Linked DNA regions of Homo sapiens: region 2 is linked to region 1. The links come from fine-mapping of genetic effects on gene expression. A gene starts in region 1. The other region holds a variant in brackets. All regions are shown on one strand. Distances are between the middles of the regions.

Region 1 (5,371 bases):
ATTCCAACACAAACAACCAAGCCATGGCACTCATGTTGTCTTATCTGTCGATCAGCATTACTGGGCCCTGGTATGAATGGTCACTTTTAGACTAGGTCTTTGCAAGACAGATCAACTCTGTGCTGCCAAACAAAAAAAATAAATAAATATTACCCCAAATACACAGTCATAATATCAGTATTAGCTAACATGAATAGAGTACTTGCCATATGCCAGTGTTGTTCTAAGTGCCTAGGATATGTAACCTCATTGAATCCTCACAAATACCCTATGAGAGATTTCTACATCATTATTCTCATTTTACAGATAAGAAAACTGAGGCACAGATAAGTTCATAACTTGGCGGGGCACAGTAGCTCACGCCTGTAATCCTAGCACTTTGGGAGGCCGAGGCAGGCAGATCGCTTGAGCTCAGTAATTCAAGACCAGCCTGGCCAACACGGCGAGACCCTGTCTCTACCAGAAAACACAAAAAAATTAGTCAGGTATGGTGGCATGCGCCTGCAGTCCCAGCTACTCAGGAGGCTTGAGGCAGGAAGATCACCTGAGCCCAGGGAGGCTGAGACTGCAGTGAGCCGAGATCAACCCAGTGCACTACAGCCTGGATGACAGAGTAAGACCCCATCTCAAAAAAAAAAAAAAAGAAAAGAAAAAGCGAAGTTCATAACCTGCCAGGAAGAACAGGACTAAAGTTTAAGCTCAGGCTGCCTGGGTCCAACCATACCATCAGCAGCAGTCTGTGCTCTTAGCCACTTTGCTATAACGCCTCTCTGAATTTGCTATTGTTATATGTAGTTTAATAGCTCAAAGGGCACTTTCAGGAACATATAAGATAAAGGCTATGAAGTATAGGGTGCTGGGTGACAGATGAAGGTGGCTGTTTGCTTTAGAATGGGGTTCGAGAAGGCCTTTCAAGATAGCGACATTCAGGCTGAGACTTGAAGGATGGGAAGGAGCCAGACAGGCAGATTGCAGCAAAAAGCCCAGGCTGAGGACTCACCAATCACAAAGGCCAGGAGGCAGAAAAGAATATGGAGCCTCAGGAAAACCAAAAGCAGGCCAGTGTGACTGAACCTTGGTGACAGAGAGCACATGGGAGGTACAGCCAGAGCCCTGTAGCCAGGAGTGGGCGGTATAATCACAGTGCAGGAGAAAGTCATGGGGCAGGAACAAGCTCCACCAGCAGCTACCAGGTATCCTCCCTTTATCTGGACTCCGTGCCAAGAAGATCACAATTAAAATTTCATTTCCCTCCAATGCAATAGTATAATTTATTTATTTATTTATTTTGAGACAGAGTCTCACTCTGTCGCCCAGGCTGGAGTGCAGTGGCATGACCTCAGCTCACTGCAACCTCCGCCTCCCAGGTTCAAGCGATTTCTCCCGCCTCAGCCTCCTGAGTAGCTGGGATTACAGGCGCGCGCTAGCATGCCGGGCTAATTTTTCTACTTTTTGTAGAGACGGGTTTCACCATGTTGGCCAGGCTGGTCTTGAACTGATCTCAGGTGAACAGCCCACCTTGGCCTCCCAAAGTGCTGGGATTACAGACGTGAGCTACCGCGCCCTACCAGTAGTATGGTTCTTATCATCTCCATTTTATAAAAACAGATTTTGTGCCTACACAGCTGGAAAACAATTTTTTTAATTGCCGCTGTGCTAATGGAATTCCTTCTACCTACTGTGAAATCATTTCTTTCCATTTTTCTGTCTCAGGATTTAGGGAACTGTTCTGTACGCCCTCCTCCCCAGGCAGCACTGCAGAGATTTTATAAATAACTTCTCACGTCTTTCTCATAGTTTTGAGTGACAATATGGATTAAGAATCCCACCTTGGTGAGGAAAAAGGATAGAGATCGCAGAAGGTGAGAGAAGGCGGGGTAGAAGCGAGGAAGAGTTGGGGCAGGTAACACTCTGGACCGAACCCTCGAAGGGACCTTAATGACTCAGCGGGGGCCAGGGCAGTGAGGCTGCAGTGAGCTATGATCGTGACGTCTAAAGGCGATAGAACGGGGGTTAAAATATAGCAGGACTAGGCTGTGATTTACAGAAGCAAAATGCATTTCCACGGGTGGGAACCAGCGAGGAACCCCCGAATTGCTCCAACGCTGAGGGTGGAGCCGGGAAAGCAGCGAGGAGAAAGTGGGAGGGGCCGTGGCTAAAGGGGCGGGGGTTAGGGGACGAGGCATGGCAGGGAACAACCTGAGGGGACTGGCCGGGGGCTGATGTCGGGGCCACAGTTCTCAGGACGGGACTAGGGGAAACCTAGGAAGCCTGGAACTGGGGTAGACATGGCGAGCAGCTTCTCACCCGGTTCTGCACCGTCTCCTCGGAGGCCGTCGAGAGTCGCGTCCGCCGCCGTAGGCAGATTGGTGGGGCGGGGGGCGGGGAGGACTGGCCCCTCCGCGCCGGAACTCCCGCCATGACAGAGGGCAGCTTCTCCCCTGCATCGTTCCGCGCATAGCCTCCGGACCCTACGGCCGCCATCGTCACGCCGGAGGCGGGCGACCGTTACATCCCCTAACCGCCGCTGCCGCCACCGCCACGACCCACTGGAACAGCGAACAGCCGCGGGAAAGCCGGCGCCACCGCCTATTGGACGCGACGGGCCCGGCCTAGCCAATCGCAGGGATGCCGGGCGGCGCTTAGAACCAATGGGGGCGAAGAGGCGGAGCGAGTGCCTGGCGGGGCGGGGCCACAGCCAGTGTACTGGATGCCTGATTAAGCGTCATGGGGTCTTTCATCCAGACTGCGTTTTCATTATTCGCTGAAACATACAGGTTTTAATTTTTACGAGGCTAAGGCCACGGCCGCCTCACCTCGGTTTTTGCCGCCACCTAGAGGAACTATGTGCGCCCCAACGGTTGCCCGGATGTAGGCGTAGGGTGGAGCCGTAAGAGATTGACTAGCCAGTTGATTTGGTTGGCGCAGGCTCAGAAACGCCGTGACGCCGCCCTTCCCCCCAACACGTGATGAAAGTCGGGGTGACGAAGGGCCGGCTTTGCGCAGGTGCACAGTACTCGCTATGGCCCATTCGTCACGTGACGAGGGCGGGACTGTGGCACTGTGGAGGGGCGCCTAGTAGGCAGGCGCTCTCAGCTCTCTCCCCGGTACGTGACGAGACTCCACGGACGTCACGTGAGGCAGGCGGCGAGCGCGGGTGGGGCGGGGTTAGGCGGCGCTCCGCGAGAACCAAAGTGCAGCCGCTGACCCGGCAAAACTCAGCGGGGGCTGGATAGCCATGCCCAAGTACTGCAGGGCGCCGAACTGCTCCAACACTGCGGGCCGCCTGGGTGCAGACAACCGCCCTGTGAGCTTCTACAAGTGAGCGCAGCGCGGGGCGGGGCTTGAGGGAGGCGGGACCCTGAGAGGGGTGGGGCCCGAGCATTAGTGCTGCTGTGCGGGGCTTCTGGTCTTGCTTGAGGGTGTTAGGAAGTGGGGTTAAACCATGAGGAGATGGCCTTCCTGGCAGTGTCCATTGCACATACAAAGGTGCAGGCGTGGGAAACAGGAGTAGACGATTGACTACAGATAGCGAGCGAAGCGAGCCGAAGAGTGAAAGGGATGTAAGAAGTGAAGTCGGTGCAGGCTGTTAGAGAGCCTGCAGATGCCCACTTGCCCTCCCCACGCATTTGAGCCATCTGAAACTCAGAGCATCCGAAACTGAGCTTGCGATCGTGTCTCCCCAAAACCTTCCAGTCTGTCTTATCTTAGTAGCGTGCTTCATTCTTCTTGTTGCTTAGGTTTAAAAAATGTCATCCTTACCTCTTTCGTCATACTTGGGAAAGTCAGAATTAGCTTCGACTGTAAAAGATCTGTCTCCTTATTTATCTGGCTGACATAAGCCAGTTGGTGGAAGAATTACTAGGAAAAAACATTTCTTTGCTTTTTTTTTTTTTTTTTTTTGAGACAAGATCGCTTTGTCGCCCAGGCTGGAATGCAGTGGAACGATCACAGCTCACTGCAACCTCGACCTCCCGGGCTCAAGTGATCCTCCCACCTCACCCTACCAAGTAGCTGGGACCAGAGGCACGCGCCACCATGCCTGGATAATTTAAATTTTTTTTTTTTTTTTTTTTTTTTTTTTTTTTTGCCAGGCTTGGTGGCTCACGCCTGTAATCCCAGCACTTTGGGAGGCCGAGGCGGGCAGATCACCTGAGGTCAGGAGTTCGAGACCAGCCTGGCCAACATGGTGAAACCCCGTGTCTACTAAAAATACAAAAATTAGATGGGCGTGGTGGCTCATGCGTGTAATTCCAGCTACTCCGTGGGCTGAGGCAGGAGAATCGCATGAATCCAGAAGGCAGAGGTTGCAGTGAGCCAAGATGAGGCCACTGCAATCCAGCGTGGGCAACAAGAGTGAGACTCCGTCTCAAAAAAAAAAATTTTGTTTTTAAAGAGAGAGATGGGATCACCCTATGTTGTCCAGTCTAGTCTCAAACTCCTGGGCACAAGCAGTCCTCCTGCCTCGGCCTCCCAAAGTGCTTGGATTACAGGCGTGAGCCACTGCACCCAGCCAGGAAAAAATATTTCTCTTGGACATACTGCAGATGTAAAGTGGCAGAATTCCCATCCTTTGAGTGTCTACTGCTTTCTTAGTAGGAAACTTTGGTTGTCTAAAGTCAGAGATGATCACAAACTTTGCTGTTTGAAATCACATCAAGTAAGAATGAAACATCTCACTTTTGCTTGGAGGAGCTAAGTCACTTTGACACAGAAAAGCAGTCCCTATTTACAATCCAGGTTTGGAGCTTCAGATAAGGACACAATATTCTACATCTATGTAAACTTTATTGCATCTGAGAAGACAAACCCTGGGCCCACTTCACCATCCGGACCTGATATTGATCCCTTTACACACAGTTCTGATTTGCTTTGAGGCAATCTGAACACTGCTTAGTTTACATTTCACCTAAAAAATAACTCTGTTTGTTGAGACTCCCTCACAAAACAAAGGCCCATAGGGCCTATGGCAGTGGTCCCCAACCCTTATGGCACCAGGGACTGGTTTTGTGGAAGACAGTTTTTCCACGGATGGGATAGGGTTGGGGGAATGGTTTTGGGATGAAACGCTTCAGATCATCAGGCATTAGATTCTCATAAAAAGCGGGCAACTGGCCAGGCACAGTGGCTCATGCCTGTAATCCCAGCACTTTGGGAGGCCAAGGCGGGCAGATCACGAGGTCAGGAGATCGAGACCATCCTGGCCAACATGGCGAAACCTTGTCTCTACTAAAAATACAAAAATTAGCTAGGTGTGGTGGCACATGCCTGTAATCCCAGCTACTTGGGAGGCTGAGGCAGGAGGATCACTTGAACCCAGGAGGCAGAGGTTGCAGTGAGCCGAGATTGCGCCACTGCACTCCAGCCTGGC
Region 2 (5,371 bases), 44 kb before region 1:
CCAGGCCCGAGCAGCGAGTCCCCTGCGTGTCTGGCCCCTGCTTACCTGGGAAATGGGGCAGCGACGTGGCAAACCGAGGGGCAGGGTCAGGAGGCGGAGCTGGGGAGTGGATGGCTGCGAAGCTGCACTCCAGGTCGGCCTCTGACTCCCCCGAGTCTGAAGGACAGAGTCGGGGTCAGGAGCCCACAGCCTGACCATTCTGGTGAGCCAGGGCCAGGGCTACCCTTCCCTGGGCTCAGTTTCCCCATCTGGAGGAGGGATGGTAAGAGCAGCTGCCCCCCATTTTATGAATAAGGGAAGTTCCACATCAAGGAGGTGGCAGAGCTGGGCTCTCAGCTGTAGGCAGCTGGGCCCAGAATCCTCAGGCAGCAGCAGGGACCACATGTGTCTTCCTCGACAGACTCTGAGCTTCAGTACTGGGTCAAAGTCACCATCGGTGCCCAGAAAGGGGCTTGGCTGAACGCACAGACTGTCACAGGGTCCCTGCCTGCCCTGCACTCACCCTCAGGCGGGCTCTGGTCCTTTGGGCTGTCGGAGGACACCCTGAGGTAGGAGTCGCCCTGCTGGTCTCCAGGCCCGGCCTCCACCTCCTTCCTGCAATACTGGCTGCAGTGCCAGTGGGGGCAGAGAGGGAACAAGGACTTCAGCTGGAGACTCAACAGCTAGCCCCACCCGGAGCCCCTAGGCACCTGTACCCGCTGCTCCTGCAGGAGCACTGCGACAGCCTCCCCGCCTCCTCCAAATGCCCCCTCCTTCCCCCAGGTCAGGCCCTCCTGTACCCCACCTGGAACCAGGGAACTAAGGCTGGGCTCCTGCCCCATCCAGGCCTCAACTGTCCCCACTCCCACAAGCCCACTGGGAAGGCAGAGAGCACTTCTTCCAGGATGCAGCTATCAGCTGGGGGTTCCTCCAACTAAGGCTCCCTTGGTGGAAAGGACACCCACCTGTCTGTCCCTGTGACTGTCACTTCTGCCTCCAGAGAGTAGAGGATGAGCTCACTGGCCTCAGATGATTCCTTCTGCTGGGGCAGGAAGGAGGGGTGCCCGCGGCCAGCTTCCTGGGGACTCTCTGACTATGGGGAAGACAGCACAGCCATTCTGAGGCAGGCATGGCTGGGGCCACCAACAGTGCGCCAGGAACCATGCCAGCAGCCCCACTGCTGGAGGCTGTGAACCAGGGCCTGTGCCATGCCCTCCACTCGCAACCAGCTTGTCCTGGTCTGCCCCTGCATTATCAGTCCCTTTACAGATGAGGAAGAGGTGTGGCACCAAAAATAGGAGGCCCAACCCTCTACGTGTCTATTTATATCAAGTTCAAGAATAGGAAACCCAGTCCTTGGTGAGAGGTCAGAACACTGGTTATCCTGGTGCGGGGACCTGACTGGGAAGGGCAGAAGGGGGTTTCTATGAGGTAGAAAACACTCCAGATTTTGCCCAGGGTAGTGGACACACGTGAATTACACAGATAGTTCATCAAGCTGTATACCTAAAATCTGTGCATGTTACTGGATGTATATTATACCACAATGAAGATGACAAATTATAGGATAGGATAAAAATGAATTTTGTTTGGAAAATAGTAGAGAAAGAGCTAAAGTTGCACGGGCACCTCTAAGAGCCCAGGCCCTATACTTAAGCATGGATTCCTGTAAAAGCCCTCTGGGGCAGAAGAGATTGTTATTACCATTTAAAAACAAAACAAACAAAAAAATTTAAAAAATATTTTTGTAGAGGTGGGATCTTGCTACGTTGCCTAGGCTGGCCTTGAACTCCTCAAGTGATCGTTAAGTAATCCTCCTGCCTTGGCCTCCCCAAATGCTGGGATTACAGGTGTTAGCCACTGCCCCTGACCCCATTATGACTACTTTTTAGAAGACTGAAGCCCAAAGAGGTAAGCCTCTTACTCCAGGTCACACAACAGGAATGGGTAGGGTCAGGGCTCGATCTACCCAAATGTCCCCCACTTGGGTACAAGCCTGCTCTAGCATCCAAGCTCTTAACCCCCAAGTGACCCACTTTCCAAAGACTCCCTGTCTGCCTTGGGAAGTCTTGCTGTGCAACAGACCTGGGGCTCACCCTCCTGCCCTTCACCATCTCATGTAATCCTCCCTGCCCCCATGGAGTGGGAGTCAGCCTAAGGCGCCAGGCCCTGGGGCCGTCACGGTGCCGGGGCTATGGGCCAGGCTGCGGTGGAAGTGTGTACCTCACTCAGCAGGCTGGCCAGGCTCTGTGGCTCCAGTGAATCCAGAATGGAGTTCTCCAGACTCTCGGGCTTCATGGGGGTAAAGTAGCAATCCAGGTCCTGGGCATCCAGGATGGTCTTGAGGGGCTCTTGGCCGGCCCGCTCTGCCCAGCGGCCGTGGGGCTGGTAGCTGCGCTTGGCGTGGAAGGCC[A/G]AGCCATCTGCCACATCATCGTCCCCTAGCTTGAAGGATATCGGACAGTCAGGCAACTGGCTGAGTGCTCACTCACTGCAGGGAGCGACACGGACATTTCACACAGCCCATCTGGACTCTTGGCTTTCAATACCATTCAGAAACAACTTCCAGGTACATATCTCCAGCGTGAACCTTTCTCTGTTTTTTTTTTTTTTTTTTTTTTTGAGACGAAGTCTTGCTCTGTCTCCCAGGCTGGAGTGCAGTGGCGTGACCTTGGCTCACTGCAACCTCCACCTCTCAGTTTCAAGCAATTCTCCTGTCTCAGCCTCCAGAGTAGCTGGGATTACAGGTGCCCACCACCACACCTGGCTAATTTTTGTATTTTTAGTAGAGATGGGGTTTTGCCATGTTGGCCAGGCTGGTCTCAAACTGCTGACCTCAAGTGATCCGCCCGCCTCGGCTTCCCAAAGTACTGGGATTACAGGCATGAGCCACTGCGCCCAGCCCATTTTGTTGGTTTTTGGTAGAGGTGGACTCTCACTATGTTGCTCAGGCTGGTCTCAAACCCTTGGGCTCAAGGAATCCTGTTTCGGCCTCCCAAAGTGCTGGGAATGCCCAGCTGGGATTCATGAACTTTTCTCTGAAACTTCAGAATTGCACATGTGACTGCTCTACATTTCTGTATGGATGTCTGGTAGGTATTTCAAAGTTAACATGCTGACAACTCAACTCATTTCCTCTGCACAAACCTGCTCCTCCTAAAGATTCCCTGTTTCAGTTGTTTTTTCCAGTTACTCATGCCCCAACCTTGGGATCATCCTTCATTCACCTCTCTTATTCTGTCTCTTATAATCCACATTGTCTTTCTTTTTTTTTTTTTTTGAGAGGGAGTCTCACTCTGTCGCCAGGCTGGAGTGCAGTGGCATGATTTCGGTTCACTGTAACCTCTGCCTCCTGGGTTCAAGTGATTCTCCTGCCTCAGCCTTACCAGTAGTTGGGACTATAGGCATGCACCACCATGCCCAGCTAATTTTTGTATTTTTAGTAGAGACGGGGTTTTACCATGTTGACCGGGATGATCTTGATCTCTTGACCTTGGATTACACCCGCCTTGGCCTCCCAAAGTGCTGGGATTACAGGCGTGAGCCACCGCACCCGGTCTCTTTTTCTTTTTTTTTTTTTAAGAGACAAGGTCTCGTTCTGCCATCCAAGCTGGAGTGCAGTAGCACGATCACTGCAGCCTCCAACTCCTGGGCTGAAGTGATCCTCCTGCCTCAGGCTCCTGAGTAGCTGGGACTATGGGTGTGCACCACCATGCCTGGCTATTTTTAATCTTTTGTAGAGATGGGAGTCTCATTATGTTGCCTAAGCTGGTCTCGAGCTCCTGGCCTCGTGGCTTTTACACGTATAGGCTGTTATGACTAGAACATTCGTCCCAGTATCTGCCTGTCTCACTTGCTTCAACTCTGCTCAAACATCATTTTCCCAATGAGGCCTTTCCTGTTTACTTAAAACTGACACCCCCCAACACTCCTTATTTTCTTTTTTATTTTTATTTTTTTTATGAGACAAAGTGTTGGCTCTGTTGCTCATGCTGGAGTGCTGTGGAGTGCAGCTCCCTGCATCCTCGACCTCCCTGGCCCAAACAATCCTCCCACTTCAGCCTCCTGAGTACCTGGGACTACAGGTATGCACCACCATGCCTGGCTAATTTTTTTATTTTTTGTAGAGATGGGGTCTCACTATATTGCTCAGGCTGGTCTTGAACTCCTGGGCTCAAGTGATCAACCTGCCTTGGCCTCCCAAAGTGCTGGGATCACAGGCATGAACCACCGTGCTGGGCCCCTGTTCTTTTTCTCTTTTTTGAGACAGGATCTCACTCTGTTGCCCACGCTGGAGTGTAGTAGTGGTGCCTTCTCAGTTCCCTACAGCCTCAACCTCCTGGGCTCAAGTGATCCTCCCACTTCAGCCTCCTGAGTAGCTGGGACCACAGACACGTATCACTGCACCTGGCTGACGTATTTTCCTTCTTGATTCTTTTCCCTCCACAGCACTTATCAGCACCCAACCTACTACGTCATTTACTTATTTAATGGGGATATTGTTCCTCGCCCACACAGGCAAGTGAGCCTGTGAAGGGAGAGACTTTTGTTTCCCTTGCTCACTGTTGTGTCCCTGACATCCAGAACAATGCCTGGCAGAGAGCACTGATCATGAACAAAGGGCTGTCTCACTGAGCCTGGAAGGATGACAGGGCTTCTCCAGGGAAAAGAGGGACATGGAAAGGAAAAAGGGCTTCCAGAAGGCAGAGCTGGGGAGGCGTTTCCTCTGCCAGCCCCTGAGCAACCCTCTCCCTGAAGACTTACCAGCCGCTTTGCCCACAGTGGCAGCTTGCCGTTGGTTAGCAGGCAACGAGGATCTGGAAAGACACAGAATCCATGAAAAGAGGACAAACAACCCAACAAACAGGCCACATACATAACCGGGCAGTCCCCAAAGAGGCAACACCACAACCCAGAAGTCAGAAGGCTCAACAGCACCGGGGGTTAGGGAAATGCAAACTTAAACCGTGGGATGCGATATTTGACTCACGAGACTGACCGAGGTGAAAAAGCTTAATACTACCAAAGGATGGCAGGAAAAGTGTGGGGACAATGGAGAGCCTAATGCAATGCAGGGTGGGGCAGTAACTGGGTTTGGAGAACTCTTGGGGTTCTCTTTTTTTTTCTTTTTTTGAGACGGAGTCTCGCTCTGTTGCCCAGGCTGGAGTGCAGTGGCGCGATCTCGGCTCACTGCAACCTCCACCTCCCGGGTTCATGCCATTCTCCTGCCTCAGCCTCCCAAGTAGCTGGGACTACAGGTGCCCGCCACCATGCCCGGCTAATTTTTTTTTTTTGTATTTTTAGTAGAGACGGGGTTTCACCATGTTAGCCAGGATGGTCTCGATCTCCTGAACTCGTGATCCGCTCGCCTCGGCCTCCCAAAGTGCTGGGATTA

Evidence for each region. PIP is the estimated chance that this variant, and not a neighbour inherited with it, causes the effect.
Region 2: its variant is fine-mapped to the expression of WDR62 in tibial nerve (GTEx, PIP above 0.99).

What each region holds. Positions count from the first base shown.
Region 1 is chr19:36,052,085-36,057,455 of GRCh38, reverse strand. WDR62 (WD repeat domain 62) reads right to left here and starts at 2,559. Exons shown (of 32, transcript NM_001083961.2): 1 at 2,308-2,559. The coding sequence starts at 2,484. THAP8 (THAP domain containing 8) reads left to right here and starts at 3,171. Exons shown (of 4, transcript NM_152658.3): 1 at 3,171-3,321. The coding sequence starts at 3,239.
Region 2 is chr19:36,096,449-36,101,819 of GRCh38, reverse strand. WDR62 (WD repeat domain 62) reads right to left here. Exons shown (of 32, transcript NM_001083961.2): 21 at 4,741-4,793; 22 at 2,203-2,421; 23 at 945-1,072; 24 at 503-606; 25 at 46-156. Among named protein-coding and RNA genes, the nearest start is that of OVOL3, 12 kb to the left of the region's middle. RefSeq lists an enhancer at 712-1,213. The variant A/G (reference allele first, on the strand shown) is at 2,393.